Regions from separate parts of the Homo sapiens genome. Here region 1 is linked to region 2. Evidence: fine-mapped expression QTL. A gene starts in region 2. The other region holds a variant in brackets. All regions are shown on one strand. Distances are from middle to middle. Region 1 overlaps IL6R (interleukin 6 receptor). Region 2 holds the start of IL6R (interleukin 6 receptor).

Region 1 (8,000 bases), 62 kb after region 2:
CCACCCACCTTGGCCTCCCAAAGTGCTGGGATTACAGGCATGAGCCACCACACCCGGCCTTATTTTGCTTTTATAAAAAACACTGTGTTGAACATCTTTGTGCATAAAGGGTTTTTTTTTTTTTATAGCTATGTTCTTTCTTTTCCCAGAAGTAGAATTCCTGGGTCAGAGAGTCTGAATTCTTTGAAATCCAGAGTGTAATGATTCTCTCCTCAGTCCTTTCTTACAGGAGAACTCCATTCAATGACTCAGCATAGCTCCAGTCAGCAGCCCTGCTGGGCTCTCTTCCTGTGTGGTGTCCACATGGTGAAGCCCTAAATAATATTCTGCAGATTGTTTATTTCATTTGGATACCAAGCTAAAAGCCAGTGGCAGATTTGGAGCCAACTATTAATTATTTATCATAACAAGGACAGGAATAACCTGTCGATATAAAAAGAAACCCAAGGAAAATCCCCAAATCTTGTTTTTGACATTGGTTTCCCCTCCTCTTTCCCAGCCCTTCCTGGAGTAACTGATCTTCCATGGAATTGAGGGAGGCCACCTTGTTCCCACTTTGGGGTTAGGAGGCATGTCAGTCACAAAGTGGGAAGCAAGAGGGAGGGGCTGAGGCTTGGGGCACTGGCCACCCTGGCACAGTTGAAGGGCCCCTTTAGGAAGGGGACGTGACTGTGCTTTTGAAGATCCATGTCACCATTTCATCTTTCTTTGAGCTGTCAAGTGACTTTTCTCAGTTACTGAGCCCTGGCTTTGGGCCCAGAGTGGAGCACTGTGAACCAAGCTGTGATCAGAAAGATGTCTATCTCCTTCCTGTGTAGCATTGACTTTCCTGTCAGATGAGTCAAATTGTGCCCAGTGGTGCCGACAGTTGAGTCTGTGGGAACTCACCAGCATGGTGGGAGTGGACCGAGAGGCGTAGGGAGAACTGGGGAGGTCAGCAACATTAGGAGCAAGAGGAACAGGAAGGCAGTTGAGGGAGCAGTGGGACCCTTTTCCTGCTATTACATGGCGGTTGCAAATTATCTGCCTCCTGCCAGCCTTACTTTGACCGAGAGGCCCATTTTCTTTCCCTACTAAAAGAATGCTTTCTTTTTTTATTTTCTTTCCTTTTCTTTTTTTTTATTTTTGAGACAGAGTTTCACTCTTGTTGCCCAGGCTGAAGTGCAATGGCACGATCTCAGCTCACTGCAACCTCTGCCTCCCGTGTTCAAGCGATTCTCCTGCCTCAGCCTCCCAAGTATCTGGGATTACAGGTGCCTGCCACTACGCCTGGCTAATTTTTGTATTTTTAGTAGAGACGGGGTTTCACCACGTTGGCCAGGCTGGTCTTGAACTCCTGACCTCAGGTGATCCGCCCGCCTCGGCCTCCCAATGTGTGGGGATTACAGGCGTGAGCCACTGCGCCCAGCCTATTTTTCTTTTTTTTAAGTAAATGGATTTGGGACTGATGATGTGTACCTAATGAACAGCCTCTGCAATGGGACAATTAAGGGACTGTTAAGTGACTTTTTGGTGCCTCAGTTTCTTCACTTGTAAATTGGACCAACAATACACATCTATTTCCTTGGGAGTGTTTTGGAAACTCACCAACTCTTCAGAGTATGGTGAACTCCCTGGTGATAAAAACAGTCGGGTCGGGTGTGCCGGCTCATACCTGTAATCCCAGCACTTTGGGAGGCCGAGGCGGGCGGATTGCTCGAGCCCAGGAATTCAAGACCAGCCTGAGCAACATGGCAAAACCCTGTCTCTATGAGAAATACAAAAATCAGTCGGATGTAGTGGCACACACCTGTAGCCCCAGCTACTCAGGAGGCTGAGGTGGAAGAATCACCTGAGCCCAAGGAGGTTGAGGCTGCTGTGAGCTGAGATCACGCCATAGCACTCCAGCCTGGGTAACAGAGCAAGATCCTGTCTCAAAACAAACAAATGAACAAAAAACAAAAAGACAGCTGATAGTTATTGCTCCTTTGAGCCGAAACCTGGGCGCGCCAGGCCACCAGGGCAGCCAGCTGTTGGTGTTTTCCACTGTGGGCTTGTCACAGGGGGAGCTAAAAATCTGTGTGGTTTGTCTTTGTGTGTTTGTGTGAAGGTTCAAGAAGACGTGGAAGCTGCGGGCTCTGAAGGAAGGCAAGACAAGCATGCATCCGCCGTACTCTTTGGGGCAGCTGGTCCCGGAGAGGCCTCGACCCACCCCAGTGCTTGTTCCTCTCATCTCCCCACCGGTGTCCCCCAGCAGCCTGGGGTCTGACAATACCTCGAGCCACAACCGACCAGATGCCAGGGACCCACGGAGCCCTTATGACATCAGCAATACAGACTACTTCTTCCCCAGATAGCTGGCTGGGTGGCACCAGCAGCCTGGACCCTGTGGATGATAAAACACAAACGGGCTCAGCAAAAGATGCTTCTCACTGCCATGCCAGCTTATCTCAGGGGTGTGCGGCCTTTGGCTTCACGGAAGAGCCTTGCGGAAGGTTCTACGCCAGGGGAAAATCAGCCTGCTCCAGCTGTTCAGCTGGTTGAGGTTTCAAACCTCCCTTTCCAAATGCCCAGCTTAAAGGGGCTAGAGTGAACTTGGGCCACTGTGAAGAGAACCATATCAAGACTCTTTGGACACTCACACGGACACTCAAAAGCTGGGCAGGTTGGTGGGGGCCTCGGTGTGGAGAAGCGGCTGGCAGCCCACCCCTCAACACCTCTGCACAAGCTGCACCCTCAGGCAGGTGGGATGGATTTCCAGCCAAAGCCTCCTCCAGCCGCCATGCTCCTGGCCCACTGCATCGTTTCATCTTCCAACTCAAACTCTTAAAACCCAAGTGCCTTAGCAAATTCTGTTTTTCTAGGCCTGGGGACGGCTTTTACTTAAACCGCCAAGGCTGGGGGAAGAAGCTCTCTCCTCCCTTTCTTCCCTACAGTTGAAAAACAGCTGAGGGTGAGTGGGTGAATAATACAGTATCTCAGGGCCTGGTCGTTTTCAACAGAATTATAATTAGTTCCTCATTAGCATTTTGCTAAATGTGAATGATGATCCTAGGCATTTGCTGAATACAGAGGCAACTGCATTGGCTTTGGGTTGCAGGACCTCAGGTGAGAAGCAGAGGAAGGAGAGGAGAGGGGCACAGGGTCTCTACCATCCCCTGTAGAGTGGGAGCTGAGTGGGGGATCACAGCCTCTGAAAACCAATGTTCTCTCTTCTCCACCTCCCACAAAGGAGAGCTAGCAGCAGGGAGGGCTTCTGCCATTTCTGAGATCAAAACGGTTTTACTGCAGCTTTGTTTGTTGTCAGCTGAACCTGGGTAACTAGGGAAGATAATATTAAGGAAGACAATGTGAAAAGAAAAATGAGCCTGGCAAGAATGTGTTTAAACTTGGTTTTTAAAAAACTGCTGACTGTTTTCTCTTGAGAGGGTGGAATATCCAATATTCGCTGTGTCAGCATAGAAGTAACTTACTTAGGTGTGGGGGAAGCACCATAACTTTGTTTAGCCCAAAACCAAGTCAAGTGAAAAAGGAGGAAGAGAAAAAATATTTTCCTGCCAGGCATGGTGGCCCACGCACTTCGGGAGGTCGAGGCAGGAGGATCACTTGAGTCCAGAAGTTTGAGATCAGCCTGGGCAATGTGATAAAACCCCATCTCTACAAAAAGCATAAAAATTAGCCAAGTGTGGTAGAGTGTGCCTGAAGTCCCAGATACTTGGGGGGCTGAGGTGGGAGGATCTCTTGAGCCTGGGAGGTCAAGGCTGCAGTGAGCCGAGATTGCACCACTGCACTCCAGCCTGGGTGACAGAGCAAGTGAGACCCTGTCTCAAAAAAAGAA[A/G]AAGAAAAAGAAAAAATATTTTCCCTATTAGAGAAGAGATTGTGGTTTCATTCTGTATTTTGTTTTTGTCTTAAAAAGTGGAAAAATAGCCTGCCTCTTCTCTACTCTAGGGAAAAACCAGCGTGTGACTACTCCCCCAGGTGGTTATGGAGAGGGTGTCCGGTCCCTGTCCCAGTGCCGAGAAGGAAGCCTCCCACGACTGCCCGGCAGGGTCCTAGAAATTCCCCACCCTGAAAGCCCTGAGCTTTCTGCTATCAAAGAGGTTTTAAAAAAATCCCATTTAAAAAAAATCCCTTACCTCGGTGCCTTCCTCTTTTTATTTAGTTCCTTGAGTTGATTCAGCTCTGCAAGAATTGAAGCAGGACTAAATGTCTAGTTGTAACACCATGATTAACCACTTCAGCTGACTTTTCTGTCCGAGCTTTGAAAATTCAGTGGTGTTAGTGGTTACCCAGTTAGCTCTCAAGTTATCAGGGTATTCCAGAGTGGGGATATGATTTAAATCAGCCGTGTAACCATGGACCCAATATTTACCAGACCACAAAACTTTTCTAATACTCTACCCTCTTAGAAAAACCACCACCATCACCAGACAGGTGCGAAAGGATGAAAGTGACCATGTTTTGTTTACGGTTTTCCAGGTTTAAGCTGTTACTGTCTTCAGTAAGCCGTGATTTTCATTGCTGGGCTTGTCTGTAGATTTTAGACCCTATTGCTGCTTGAGGCAACTCATCTTAGGTTGGCAAAAAGGCAGGATGGCCGGGCGCGGTGGCTCACGCCTGTAATCCTAGCACTTTGGGAGGCCAAGGTGGGAGGATTGCTTGAGCTCAGGAGTTTGAGACCAACCTGGGTAACATAGTGAGACACCATCTCTATTATGAACAATAACAGTTAAGAAAAAAAAAGGCAGGCAGGCGGTTATGGTGGTTCCCTCCCATCCCACCACATAAAGTTTCTGAGACTTGAGAACAGCAAAATGCTGTTAAAGGGAAATATTAAGAATGAGAATCTGCAGTAAGGGTGATTCTGTGCCCACAGTTCTTCAATTCTTTATACCGTTTTACCCACATGTGGTGTTACCAAAGCCGGGCAGAACCATGCTAGCGGAAGATGTGAAATCCAGATAGCTCATTATTGCCAAGAGCTAGGCAGCTTTGATCTCCAAATTGTTATTGCTTTCATTTTTATTGTAATGGAATTGCTTTGTTTTGTTTTTTTGTTTTTGTATTGAAGAGGGTTGTTTTCCCTTTATTTTTCATAAGCTAATGTAAATGAAGAAAAAATGTCTTCTCTGGGCTGTAGGCCTGGCTCAGCGTACACAGGTATACATCCTAAGCTCTCTATGTTCTCTAATCTGTGGTGACTGAACATGTGTCTCAATGCACGGGGCATTTCTACCTGTGTTTCTGCAGCACCCCCACTGCCTTGAGTCCCCAGCAGTGCTGTTATTTGCCTAACACCTGTAGCCATCTGCCACGCAGCCAGACGTGAAACGCTGAGACAGAGACCATTTAGGTTAAATACGACAGCTTATCCTGCTGGGTGGGGAAAGTAAAAAATATGCTGGTTCAAGGCCTAAAGTAAAATGATCAATAATGTTTGTAGCATTAATGAAATATTTTCAAGAAATGTGTCCAGGGGTAGCACTGGCTATGTTGACGAGGCCTTTGGTAACTCAGAGAGCTCTTGGCCCTGATGGGGACTTGCCCTTACGCTTTCTTTATCAGGCTCTGAGTTCACACGGAGCCTCTGGCACTTCCCTGCTGTCTTGGGAGAAAGGAAACTGGTTGCCGCGGCAGGTTGTGGAATCTGTTGCTGGAACCAGGCTGGAAGCCCACCTGGTAGTGAACAGGGCCCAGTGGGGCAGGCTGGGCATGTTGTGGTCTATGGGTTTGTTTCCTGGAGAATGTTCAGGAATGTCTTCCCAGCTGCTTTGGTGCTGAGCTCTATTATCTCACAGCACGTCCAGAAGGCTAACCCAGGTGGGGAGGATGCTGACACCAGCTCCAGGTGGAGTTGGTGGTCTTAATTTGGAGATGCAGGGGCAACCTGTGACCCTTTGAGGCAAGAGCCCTGCACCCAGCTGTCCCGTGCAGCCGTGGGCAGGGGCTGCACACGGAGGGGCAGGCGGGCCAGTTCAGGGTCCGTGCCAGGCCCTCCTCAGTGCCCTGTGAAGGCCTCCTGTCCTCCGTGCGGCTGGGCACCAGCACCAGGGAGTTTCTATGGCAACCTTAGTGATTATTAAGGAACACTGTCAGTTTTATGAACATATGCTCAAATGAAATTCTACTTTAGGAGGAAAGGATTGGAACAGCATGTCACAAGGCTGTTAATTAACAGAGAGACCTTATTGGATGGAGATCACATCTGTTAAATAGAATACCTCAACTCTACGTTGTTTTCTTGGAGATAAATAATAGTTTCAAGTTTTTGTTTGTTTGTTTTACCTAATTACCTGAAAGCAAATACCAAAGGCTGATGTCTGTATATGGGGCAAAGGGTCAGTATATTTTTCAGTGTTTTTTTTTCTACCAGCTATTTTGCATTTAAAGTGAACATTGTGTTTGGAATAAATACTCTTAAAAAATACCCTTGAAATGTAATTATTGCTTTGGGCATCTGGGTCATCTAAAAAAAAAAGGCTTGCCTGATTCATGAGGAGAAAGGAGTGAGGAAGGGGGGATAATTAAGTAGAACCATTTTTGGGGGGGTATCCCCTTAATGCAGGATTAAAGGACCGCTCAAAAGTAGGTAAGTTCAAGGAAGAAGCAGCAATTTCTCAGAAGGCTTTAATTATGACAGTATTTCCCACACGAGTCCTGGGATTTCTGGAAGGGGTGTGTGGGATTTTGCCACGCTTACATCACATTACCAGGTGGTGGACAGGTGGGGAAGGAAAAGGAAGGGCCATTATTTGTCAGAAGACTGTTTATTGGACCTGGGAGGGGGTGTAACACTATCACAAAGGCCACCCTGAACTCTTGATCATCAGATAGACCAAATCCATCCCCTACTGAAAAGGATCTTAGGTAGGAAAAACTTGGGACACAGCCATCCACATCTTCCAAACAGAGGAAAAGCCATCATGCGGACTCTTTGTGGGTGAGAGCTACTGTGTAAACAGTTCAGGGATGGGGAGGCGAGAACTGCAGGGAAGCCTGGAAATTATGTAACTCCACTCAAAGCTGGACTGAGAGGCGCCGCCTCTGGGCCCCCACCTGGGCAGTCAGAGGAAAGCCACAGGACAGGTGATGGTGGCCGCCATCTCCTTCAGGACACCATGCTCTCCTCTTTGAGGCTGGTCCTTGTCTTGCAGAAAGTGACACAGGGACCAGATGTCACCCAGGTGGCCAGGCTGCGTGGGCCATGGAGGGGGCACGGGAGTGGGCACTGGAGCCAGGACGTGGAGGGAGCTGCCTCCCTTTCTTCATGGCATTGCTGTTAGGATGACATGGTTACGGTGCTCTTTCCAGAAGAACTTAGGAGAGCAGATGGTGATTTCTGTAGAGGATGGCAAGGAATATGCAGTTACTGGAGCAGCCTTCTAAGAAAGCATTTTCCTTATTTACTGAGGCACAGGGCAACCAAACCTTTCTGAATATCTGTGAGAATTACAGGGCAGGGGCAGGAAACAGTGTTTGCCATCCTCCATCCTCCAGTAGCAGAGGTGTGCTGGCGAGGTGAAAGGCCTTTTAAGGCCAGGTGCGGTGGCTCACTCCTATAATCCTAGCACTTTGGGAGGCTGAGGTGGGTGGATCACTTGAGGTCAGGAGTTCGAGACCAGCCTGGCCAACATGGCAAAACCCCGTCTCTACTAAAAATACAAAAATTAGCTGCATGTGGTGGCGGGCACCTGTAATCCCAGCTATTCTGGAGGCTGAGGCAGGAGAATCGCTTGAACCTGGGAGACAGAGGTTGCAGTGAGATGAGATCGTGCCATTGCACTCCAGCCTGGGCAACAGAGCCAGACTCTGTCTCAAAAATAAAAAATAAAAAAAATTTGCCTGGCATGGTGGCGGTCACCTGTGATTCCAGCTACTAGGGAGGCTGAGGCAGGAGGACTGCTTGAACCCGGGAGGCGGAGGTTTCAGTGAGCTGAGATCACACCACTGCACTCCAGCCTGGGTGACAAAGAGTGAGTGAGACTCCATCTCAAAAAAAAAAAAACACAAAAAAAAAATAA
Region 2 (9,746 bases):
GCATCCTCAAACTCCTTGCCTCAAGCTATCTTTCCAAGTAGCTGGGACTACAGATGTGGGTCACCATGTCCGGCTAATTTTTAAATTTTTTGTAGAGATAGGGTCTTGCTATGTTGACCAGGCTAGCCTTGAACGCCTGGCCTCAAGCAATCCCCCTCATTTGGGCATTTTAACCATTTTTTAAATGGTTCAGTGGCATTAAGCACATGCACATTATTGTGAAACTATAACCACTATCCATCTCCAGAACTCTTTTCATCTTGCAAAAACGGAAGTTCTGTACCCATTAAACAATAACTTCCCGCTCTCCTCCTACTAACCCCTGGCAGCTACCACTCTGCTTCCTATCTCTATTAATTTGACTACTCTAGGTACCTCATATAAATGAAATCATATAATATTTGTCCTTTTGTGTCTGGTTTATTTCACTTAGCATAATGTCTTCAAGGTTTATCATGTTGTAGCATATGTCAGAATTTCCTTCCTTTTTAAGACTGAGTAATATTTCATTATATGTACATACCACATTTTTTTATCCATTCATCTCTTGATGGACTTTTGAATTGTTTCTACTTTTTGGCTATTGTAAATAATGCTGCTAAAAATACGGGTGTACAAATATCTGTTTGAGTCCCTGCTTTCAATTTTTTTGTGAATATATCCAGAAGTGGAACTGCCGGATTATATGACAATTCTACATTTAATTTTAATTGTGATGCTATTTATTTATTTATTTATTTATTTATTTATTTATTTATTGAGACAGAGTCTTGCTCTGTTGCCCAGGCTGGAGTGCAGTGGCACAATCTTGGCTCACTGTAACCTCCGCCTCCTGGGTTCAAGAGATTCTTGTGCCTCAGCCTCCCAAGTAGCTGGGATTACAGGAATGCGCCACCAGGCCAGGCTAATTTTTGTATTTTTAGTAAAGATGGGGTTTCACCATGATGGCCAGGCTGATCTCAAACTCCTGACCTCAGATGATCTGCCCGCCTTGGCCTCCCAAAGTGTTGGGATTACAGGTGTGAGGCATTGTGCCTGGCCCTATTTTTATTTTTATTTTTAAAGACGGGGTCTTGCTCGGTGGCCCAGGCTGGAGTGCCAAAGGTGTAATCATAGGTCACTGCAGCCTTGACCTCCTGGGCTCATGCAGTTCTCCTGCCTCAATCTCCCAAGCAGCTGAGACTACAGGCATGTGCCACTATGCCCAGCTATAACTGTGATGCTTTTTAGCAGTTAAAAATCATAACATTCTCTAAATATTACAAGAAGGGGATAAACTTTTATGAACCCTTTCTGAGAATGGTGCTAAACAAATCCCTTTTCTGGGTGTAAACTCACCTGGTGAGGCAATGGGGAGCCAGACTGTCATGCTGCCGGAGCCAGGGATGCTGCATTCCTCCACTGTGAAAGCGAGGGTCTCCACAGGCAGGCTGAGGCCCTCAGTGGGCCCTGGCTGGGGCCTGACTCTGAGGGATGCCACTGGCCAGACACTGAGTTCTGTTATTAGACCTCTGTCTGCCCACGTAACCTCCTCCCAGGCTGATGAGAAAGCAGGAGGGGAAGGTTTCAGAGAATAAGAAGCACCTTCCTGTAATTATTGATTAACCAGGGGCTGGCTCCAGGGCCAGAGGCCAGGGAGGGGTCTGCAGGTCAGTTCAGCCCTACCCCACTGCACTTCTCAGAATAATCGTTGTCCCTAAAGATGGATTCACATGGTGAATAGAGAATAAAGTGCATAGTTTTAAACTCTCACAGTTGAGAATGGCCCCAACACATCAGCCCAGACCTGGAGGTTGGGGGCAGGGTGGGAATTTAAAAAGACCACTTTGAGTCAGGGTATCTGGGATCTTGACCAGCTCTGTCACCACTGCCTGTGCCATCTTTACCAAGCAACTTCTCTTCTTGAGGCCTAGCTCCTTATCTAAAAAGTGAGGGAGGAGAAGCAATGATGACCAAGTCCCTTTTGGTTTCAAAATAACCTTACATATTTATTCTGTGGGTCTCCTGTAGACTTCTGCTTTAGGCAAACTTTAAGATGCTTCATCGCTTCAGGTGAAAGGTGAGAGAGGACTTGCTTGCTGGGAGTCAGCCTAGGGCTTCCCCCTTTACAGGAGACGGAGGGTCCCTGCAGGAACACCGGTGAAGGAGAGGGTGTCCCACACACCAGGTTCTGCTCTCTGCTCTCCCCTCACAGACTACAGAACACCAAGTGCCTGCTGCCATGGTCTGCAGTGTCTTTGGTCCTGGGTGGGCCGACCGAGCCCTTGCTCAGTGAGAGTCCTGGGCCAGGAGCCAGACCTCACCCTGGAGCTGCCAGTTACTAGTAGTGCAGTTTTGAACAAGCCACTTTACCTCTGTTAGCCTCAGTCTACTCATCTGAAAATTGGGGGCAATGTCTCCCAGCATTCAGGGTTGAGAATTTCAGAGGAGATTGTGTATGTAAAGCAATTTGTAAGCAGCACAGTTATCTGAGAAGTGTTCTGGCTCAGACAACTAAAGTCTTCATTGTTCCTTCTGTTGTCTGGGTGAGGGCAGGTCAGGCTGAATTGTGCAGGTATGCTTTCTTCTCTTTCTTTTTTCTTTTTCTTTTCTTTTTTTTGAGAGGGAGTTTCGTTCTTCTTGCCCAGGCTGGAGTGCAGTGGTGCCATCTCGGTTCACTGCAACCTCCGCCTCCTGGGTTCAAGTGATTCTCCTGCCTCAGCCTCCTGAGTAGCTGGGACTACCGGTACGCACCACCATGCCCGGCTAATTTTTGTATTTTTAGTAGAGATGTGGTTTTACCATGTTGGTCAGGCTGGTCTCGAACTCCTGACCTCATGATCTGCCCACCTTGGCCTCCCAAAGTGCTGGAATTACAGGTGTGAGGCACCACGTCCGGCCTGGCCAGGATTAAATTTTTTCATGTGAACCACAACACTAAAACTTTGTATATTGCTGCGCTTATCTTACAAATCAGGAAATAGGGGTTCAGAGAAGTTAAATAGCTTGCTTAAGTCACACAGCCAGCAAGTGGTAAAGCTGGGATCTGCATGACTACAGAGCACACAGGCTCCCCACCAGTAGATTAGAGAGGGGGAGGTCTGCTTTGGTGCAGAGACAGGTGGGATCTGTGATGCCCGTTCTTGGTTTCAACATTCTTTTAAACTCTCCTATCTGAGCCTAGGACTTTCTGCAGCCTTCCTGTTTTAGGCTGGCAGCTCACAGTCCCTCTCTGGTTATTTTCAGGTCTGTGTGTGCCACAGAGAGGAAGGGGGCAACCACAGTGGGAACCGCTTTCCAGCCCTGCTGCAACCCCTTTTGAAATAGCAGGCGAGAGGGCTGGTGGCCTCCACTGTGCTCTTCTGTTCCTGTCTGTGGGCATGGCTAAAGCAAACAAGCTCACCCACACCAGCTCCCATCGTGCGGTGGATCAGTGCATGTGCTTGGTTCTGTCTGGCACTGCTGATGGGTGGTTCCTACAGAAAGATCCAGATGCACGGGGTCTGAGGACTGTTTCAGAAGCTCTGTCCGTCCATGCCTGGCCCTGTCCACTTGGGAGTTCCATTAGGCCATGCCTGTTCCAGCTGTCCCAGGATCTTTGATCTGGGTTAGGATTGGCCTGAAACCAAAGGTAGAAAAACACATTCTAATGAGCAGTTGCTGGTCTAGAAGCTTCTCAGCCTAAACTTTATTTCAGCATTTTTCTTTCCCTCCAGATTCAGCTATGAGGCCATCCTATCAGCTTTAGGCTCTGTGGGGGTCCTTGAGAGAGTTCCCCTCCAAGGGACGGACAGATGGTCCCCTTCAAGGTCCTTGTGGTTGCTCAAAAGCCAGGTGCTTGTTTCTTTCTTTTTTTCTCTCCTTCCTTTCCTTCCTTCCCCTCTATCCCTCCTTCCCTCCCTCCCTCCCTCCTCCCTTCCTTTTCTTTCTTTCTTTTCTTTTTTTTTTTTTCTTTCCAGACAGGGTCTCACTGTCATCCAGGCTGGAGTAGCAGCCCCCAATCACGGCTCACTGTACCCTGGATCTCCCGGACTCAAGCAATTTTCCCACCTCAGCTTCCCTAGTAGCTGGGACTATAGGTGTGTACCACCACACCCAGCTAATTTTTAAATTTTTTTATAGAAATGGGGGTCTCACTTTGTTACACAGGCTGGTCTAGAATTCCTGGACTGAAGCAATCCACCCACCCGGCTCTCCCAAAGTGTTGGGGTTACAGGCGTGAGCCACTGCCCCTGGTGTTAGTGTCTGTCTGTCAAGTCAGGAGGGCAGCCATGAACGTTCTGATGTCTACTGAGCACGTGTGGCCCAGACCGTGTGTCAGGTGTTTAGGTGCCATCCACAGAACCTTCCTAATAACCCTGGGCAGCATAGGCTTTCTTATCTCTGACAGATGAGGAAATGGAGACTCAGATTCTGAACCGAAGTCACAGACACAGTAGATGGTAGGTCTAAATGGGGACCCAGGTCTATCTGACTGCAAAGTCCAAACCGTTTCCTTGCCTCTGCTGCAGCCTGCGAGGAGCAGCTGGGCAGAAAGACTGTGCCTTTACGGTGGTGAGTCTTCCGATGCCCAAGCCTCACCCCAGACCGATGAAATCAGAATCTCTGGAGACCCGACCCAGACATTGGTGGGTTTTAGGGCTCCTGGCTGATTCCAGTGGGCAACCGGGCTACCAAGCACTGTTTTACCCTAAGGGTAAGAGGAACATCGCCTCCTCGAGGGCTCTCCAGGTGTGCCTTTCACAGCGTAATCCCGTTCACGAAACCAAAAATCAAAACTAGGCCACTGCCCACTGGTGGCTGATACGCCCTTTTCTCATCAACAGAACCGGGAGGAAGGGCTCTGGTGGGGCTGGCGGTCCCCTGTTCTCCCCGCTCAGGTGCGGCGCTGTGGCAGGAAGCCACCCCCTCGGTCGGCCGGTGCGCGGGGCTGTTGCGCCATCCGCTCCGGCTTTCGTAACCGCACCCTGGGACGGCCCAGAGACGCTCCAGCGCGAGTTCCTCAAATGTTTTCCTGCGTTGCCAGGACCGTCCGCCGCTCTGAGTCATGTGCGAGTGGGAAGTCGCACTGACACTGAGCCGGGCCAGAGGGAGAGGAGCCGAGCGCGGCGCGGGGCCGAGGGACTCGCAGTGTGTGTAGAGAGCCGGGCTCCTGCGGATGGGGGCTGCCCCCGGGGCCTGAGCCCGCCTGCCCGCCCACCGCCCCGCCCCGCCCCTGCCACCCCTGCCGCCCGGTTCCCATTAGCCTGTCCGCCTCTGCGGGACCATGGAGTGGTAGCCGAGGAGGAAGCATGCTGGCCGTCGGCTGCGCGCTGCTGGCTGCCCTGCTGGCCGCGCCGGGAGCGGCGCTGGCCCCAAGGCGCTGCCCTGCGCAGGGTAAGGGCTTCGGGCGCACCTGGAGGGCTGGGGCAGCTAGCGGCTGGGGGAAACCGCCTTGGTCACCGCAGTCTGTGGGAGGCTGGAGGGAGGAAAGGAGGTGCGACGGATCCCCTTTTCTGTGGCTGCCTTGAGGCCCCGCGGGTACCTAGCTGTGTGGTCGCGGGTAGTGGCTCTTGCGCCCCCTGCTGCGCTTGCTCCCTTGGTCCGGAGCGCTCCCCGGAATGCCCGGTGAAGCTGTGCGGGAACCCTGCGGTCTGTGTACAGGACTGTGTCCTTGCAAACCTGACTCTCGAGCTTCCTTCCCAGTGCCCCCAGGAGCCTTTACACAACCGCGTCCCAGGTTACTCTAAGGGGAGACTGCCCGAGAGGGCGCGCCCCAGCGGGGTGATGTACCCGCCTGGGGAGTCCTTTGTACCAGCGCCCCTCTTCTCCCTCTGCATTGGGGGTCCACCTCGCCTGGTCCTCCCCCCACCCCCGCGGGTGCATGTGTGGATGACAGTGCCCTGACTATGAAGGGACTGACATCACGGGCGCTGAGTCACGGATCTTCCCGCTGCACGGAGTCACTTTGGCAGCCACCAACTCTGGGAAGCCAAGTGCCCCAGTCCTGGGAATTGAGTCGGGAGGCTGGCAAGGGAGTGAGACCTCCTGGGGCTGGCACGTGCTGGACTCCCCTCTAGAAAAGAGAAGGACCCGTGAGGGAGAGGGCAGAGGCACTTACTGCTCCCGTTGACTGTAATCTGCCCCTGGCAAACCAGGCTTTTCTTGGGCTCTGGCCGCATGCCCAGCTGCGTGTCTAGTCTCTCTTCTGGAAGAGTTGGGCAACTGGCTCTCCAGAGGTTTATTTTAGGGTCCCAGTGCTTCTTTGAGGACACAGCAGAAAACTAAGGGGCAGCTGACAGGCTTCTGGAACAGCTGACAGGCTGGGGAGGCTGAAGGCTAAGACTTTCAACCACTAGATCACACTGAATTCCAGTCCTAGGTGAACACTGATCTCTCCCTTTGAGGAGGTGACTTTCTGCAACTAGAGGCTGAGCTGGAGTGTCTGAGGCTCTCTTTGCTTTTTGGATGGTTGTGGTCCTTATGATTGGAAGAAAAAAAGAAGGGATTCCATTTTCAATACACATTTATAACTCCTGCCAGTAACAGACACTGTTGATTGGGGCACCCATTCAATGTTTTCTAATCCTCCACTGTATCTACATATAACTTTGTTTGAAAGAGGAGACTGAGGTTCAGGGAGGTTGGGATGGCGGGATGGCAGGTTGTCAGGCCCCGGTGATGGAGGCCAACCCCTCCCGTGGCTCTGTGCTCCAGTGTGGTAGATGTCTAAGACTCTCAAATATAGAACTAGATCAGCAGGCAGAGCTGGGGGCATTGGGGCAAGCTGAGAGTCACTCTTGTCTGGCTGAGTGCTGGGACAGAAAAGGCTGAGGGAGGGAAGTGGAGGCCCAGGCTTGCCCATGGTGGTGTTAGAGGGATGCAAGACAGGTTCCAGGGCTCGGATGGCCTCAGGAGCAAGCAGGGCTCCCTTGGCTGCCTCTGCTGCTGTCACGCCAGCCCAAGGCTCCTGCCCCAGGGAGGTTACTGTTACTGCTGTAGTTGCCACCACCTGTTGCTCCTGAGTGGATGCTAGGCCCTTCCAGGGCAGCCAGTTACAGTCAGTTTTCCATTTCCCTGGTGCTCAGGAAGGATTAGGAGAGGTGGTCTCATGGCCTGAACAGCCCATGAAAGGCAGAACTGAGAGACTGGGGAGGAAGTGAAAGTCCTCCCAGCTCAGAAGGAAAATGCAGAGAAGTAGAAATACCCAGCCCCTCTCCCACACCCACACAGACTCAGCCCACAAACTGGAGAGTAAAAATAAAGAAATCGTACAGGAAGCATGGAGCAAATGACTGTGAGATGTTTCGCTTTAGAGAAGTGAGGAGCAGAGGGGGAGCAGAGGCTGGAGTTGGCTGAGAGGGGAAATCCGCAGGTACAGCCTGCGGGGCTCTTAGAGCCCAGAGGTTTGTTTTCCTCGGGATCAGCTGCCGCCCACACACCCTGGAGCTGCCAGGACTTCTCAGGTGTACTCGTTGTCTAAGGGCCTGGACTAGCTGGGACTTAGGCTTCTGCCGGTTCCAACACTCTGGTGCTGGAAGGCTGGACTTGGGTGACTCAAGTTCCCTCTTCCTACTGCAATGCAAGAAAATACACAAAAGAAGTATGTATACCTTTAAGTATCTCAAAGAGCTATCTCAGCTTCTGAATTTCCTTCTAGGGCACCTCTTCCTGCCCCCATTACCCACACACGTGCCTAGCCTCACCCTAAATCAGTATTTCTCAAAAGCTTAGTTCTGAGCCTAGCATCAGATCTGGTGTGTGTGCTGGGTGGGAGGGCTTTGGTAAACATGATGATTTTTGAACCCTAACCCAGATTTATTAAATAAGAACACCTAGGAGTGAGGCCTGGGGCATGTCCTTTTAAACAAACTGCCCCTTGTGATTCTTAGGCACTGTCAGGTTTGAGGACGGCTGCCTAAATGGTGTCATTGAGGAACTGAATGAAGGCCCTCCCGCTTCGGGCTCTCTGTTGCCAGAAATCTCTCCTTGCTTTGGCTTGCTGCTTGTTTATTCATTGCAGCAAACATTTCTTGAGTCGGTGTAGAGCCTGTGAGGCCTGTGTAGGATCAGCTATGCAGACTCCACCCTAAAAGGAGCCTGAAAATGGTCATGGGTAAATCCTGAGAAGGGCTGAGAAACCCCAGACTCTGACCGGGCCACTGGGTACCAACTACCCGTGAACAGATTGTCTGGCTTGGGGTAGGGGGTGGTTAGAGAGAGGAAGTTCCTCTGACTGAGGACCAAGATCCCAAGGCAGCAGGCACACTGATCCTGACCCTGACCCTCATCTCCAGCCCTCAGCAGCCAGGGTAAACAAATACTCCCCTCACTGGGTATTTGTAGATTACACAAAGTAACCTAGGTGCTGACTGCTGAAAATATACACTCCCTTCCCCCGTCTCCTGAATCCTGGTCCCACCAGGCCTGGAAGCCACAGACCCAGCAAGCAAAAGAGTTTCCAGTCAATGAATCTAGTCTGGATTGAAGCTGTGCTCTGTAATACGGTAGCCACTAGCCACGTGTACCTATTTAAATTTAAATTATGCCAGCGCAGTGACTCACGCCTGTAATCCCAGTACTTTGGGAGGCTGAGGCAGGAGGATCTCTTGAGCTCAGGAGTTGGAGACCAGCCTGGGCAACAGGGTGAGATGCCGTCTCTACAAAAAGATTTAAAAAATTAGCTGGGCACAGTGACATGAGCCTGTAGTCCCTGCTACTGAGAAGGCTGAGGTGGGAGAATCACTTGAGTCCAGTCTGCATGGAGCCATGTTTGCACTACCGAATTCCAGTCTGGGCGACAGGAGACCCTGTCTCCAAAAAATTAATTTAAATGAAATCAAATAAAAACTTAGTTTCTTAGTTGCACTAGTCACATTTTAAGTGCTCAACACTCACATTGCTAGTGGCTACTGTACTGAACAGTGCAGATACAGATCTCTTCCATCATCGTGGAAAGCCCTACTGGACGGTGCTGGGCTAGAGTGTTAACCAGTTTCTTCCAGAGGTTTTCTGTTCTCTTTTCCTTTATCCCCCTCTGCCTTCTGCTCTCCTCCACCTGAACACAGCTCATTTTGCATAGGTGATGGCTAAGGTCTTCAAGCCAGGCACATCTCTGCCCTGCACTGCCAAGTAAAAATGATAACACCTTGGGCAAGTGATTTAACTTCTTTGACAGCCAGTGTTCTAGAAAATAGAAATAATTGTATTACCTCGAAGGGTGGTTATGAAGATGAGATGAGCTAAGTAAGGTATTAAATAGAGTGTTTACAGAAGTCCCTAACACACAGCAAGTGCTTAAATAAGTGTAGGTGATCATTCATTCACTCCAAAAATATATTTTTGGAGTGAACACCTCCTACTCTGTTCCAGGCACTATTCTAAGAGCTGGAGATACACCATGAATAAAAGAGACAAAAACCCCAGGCTTAGTTGAGTTTCATTCTAGTGTGGGAGACTATTAACAGGATGTAAATTAAGTATGTGGTATGCTAGCGACTAGTGCTAAGGAGAAAAACTAAAGCCGAGAGGGAGACAGACCCCATGTGTGTTTGTGGCAGGGTGGGGTGGCATGGTGCCTTGGATGGGAGGCCAGGGAATGCCTTGCTGAGAACATAATATTTGAGTGAAGACCTGAAGAAAATATACAAATCTCTAGAGATTCCCTATATGTCCATCTTGGGCAGGAAAATTCTTGCCTCCTCTTTAACAATGTGTACTACCTGAGGGTGTGTTATGTTCTGGAGCAGAGGGCTCTGTGGGGACACATGGATGCTCCCTGCCCTGGA

Evidence for each region.
Region 1: its variant is fine-mapped to the expression of IL6R in whole blood (INTERVAL, PIP above 0.99).

What each region holds. Positions count from the first base shown.
Region 1 is chr1:154,463,045-154,471,044 of GRCh38, forward strand. IL6R (interleukin 6 receptor) reads left to right here. Exons shown (of 10, transcript NM_000565.4): 10 at 2,090-6,406. The coding sequence ends at 2,336. It also overlaps a transcript of SHE not described here. Among named protein-coding and RNA genes, the nearest start is that of TDRD10, 35 kb to the right of the region's middle. RefSeq lists an enhancer at 1,921-2,422. The variant A/G (reference allele first, on the strand shown) is at 3,818.
Region 2 is chr1:154,400,360-154,410,105 of GRCh38, forward strand. IL6R (interleukin 6 receptor) reads left to right here and starts at 4,984. Exons shown (of 10, transcript NM_000565.4): 1 at 4,984-5,355. The coding sequence starts at 5,271. IL6R-AS1 (IL6R antisense RNA 1) reads right to left here and starts at 6,205. Exons shown (of 2, transcript NR_147855.1): 1 at 6,080-6,205; 2 at 1,962-3,598. RefSeq lists silencers at 4,789-4,918, 5,119-5,268 and an enhancer at 5,508-6,114.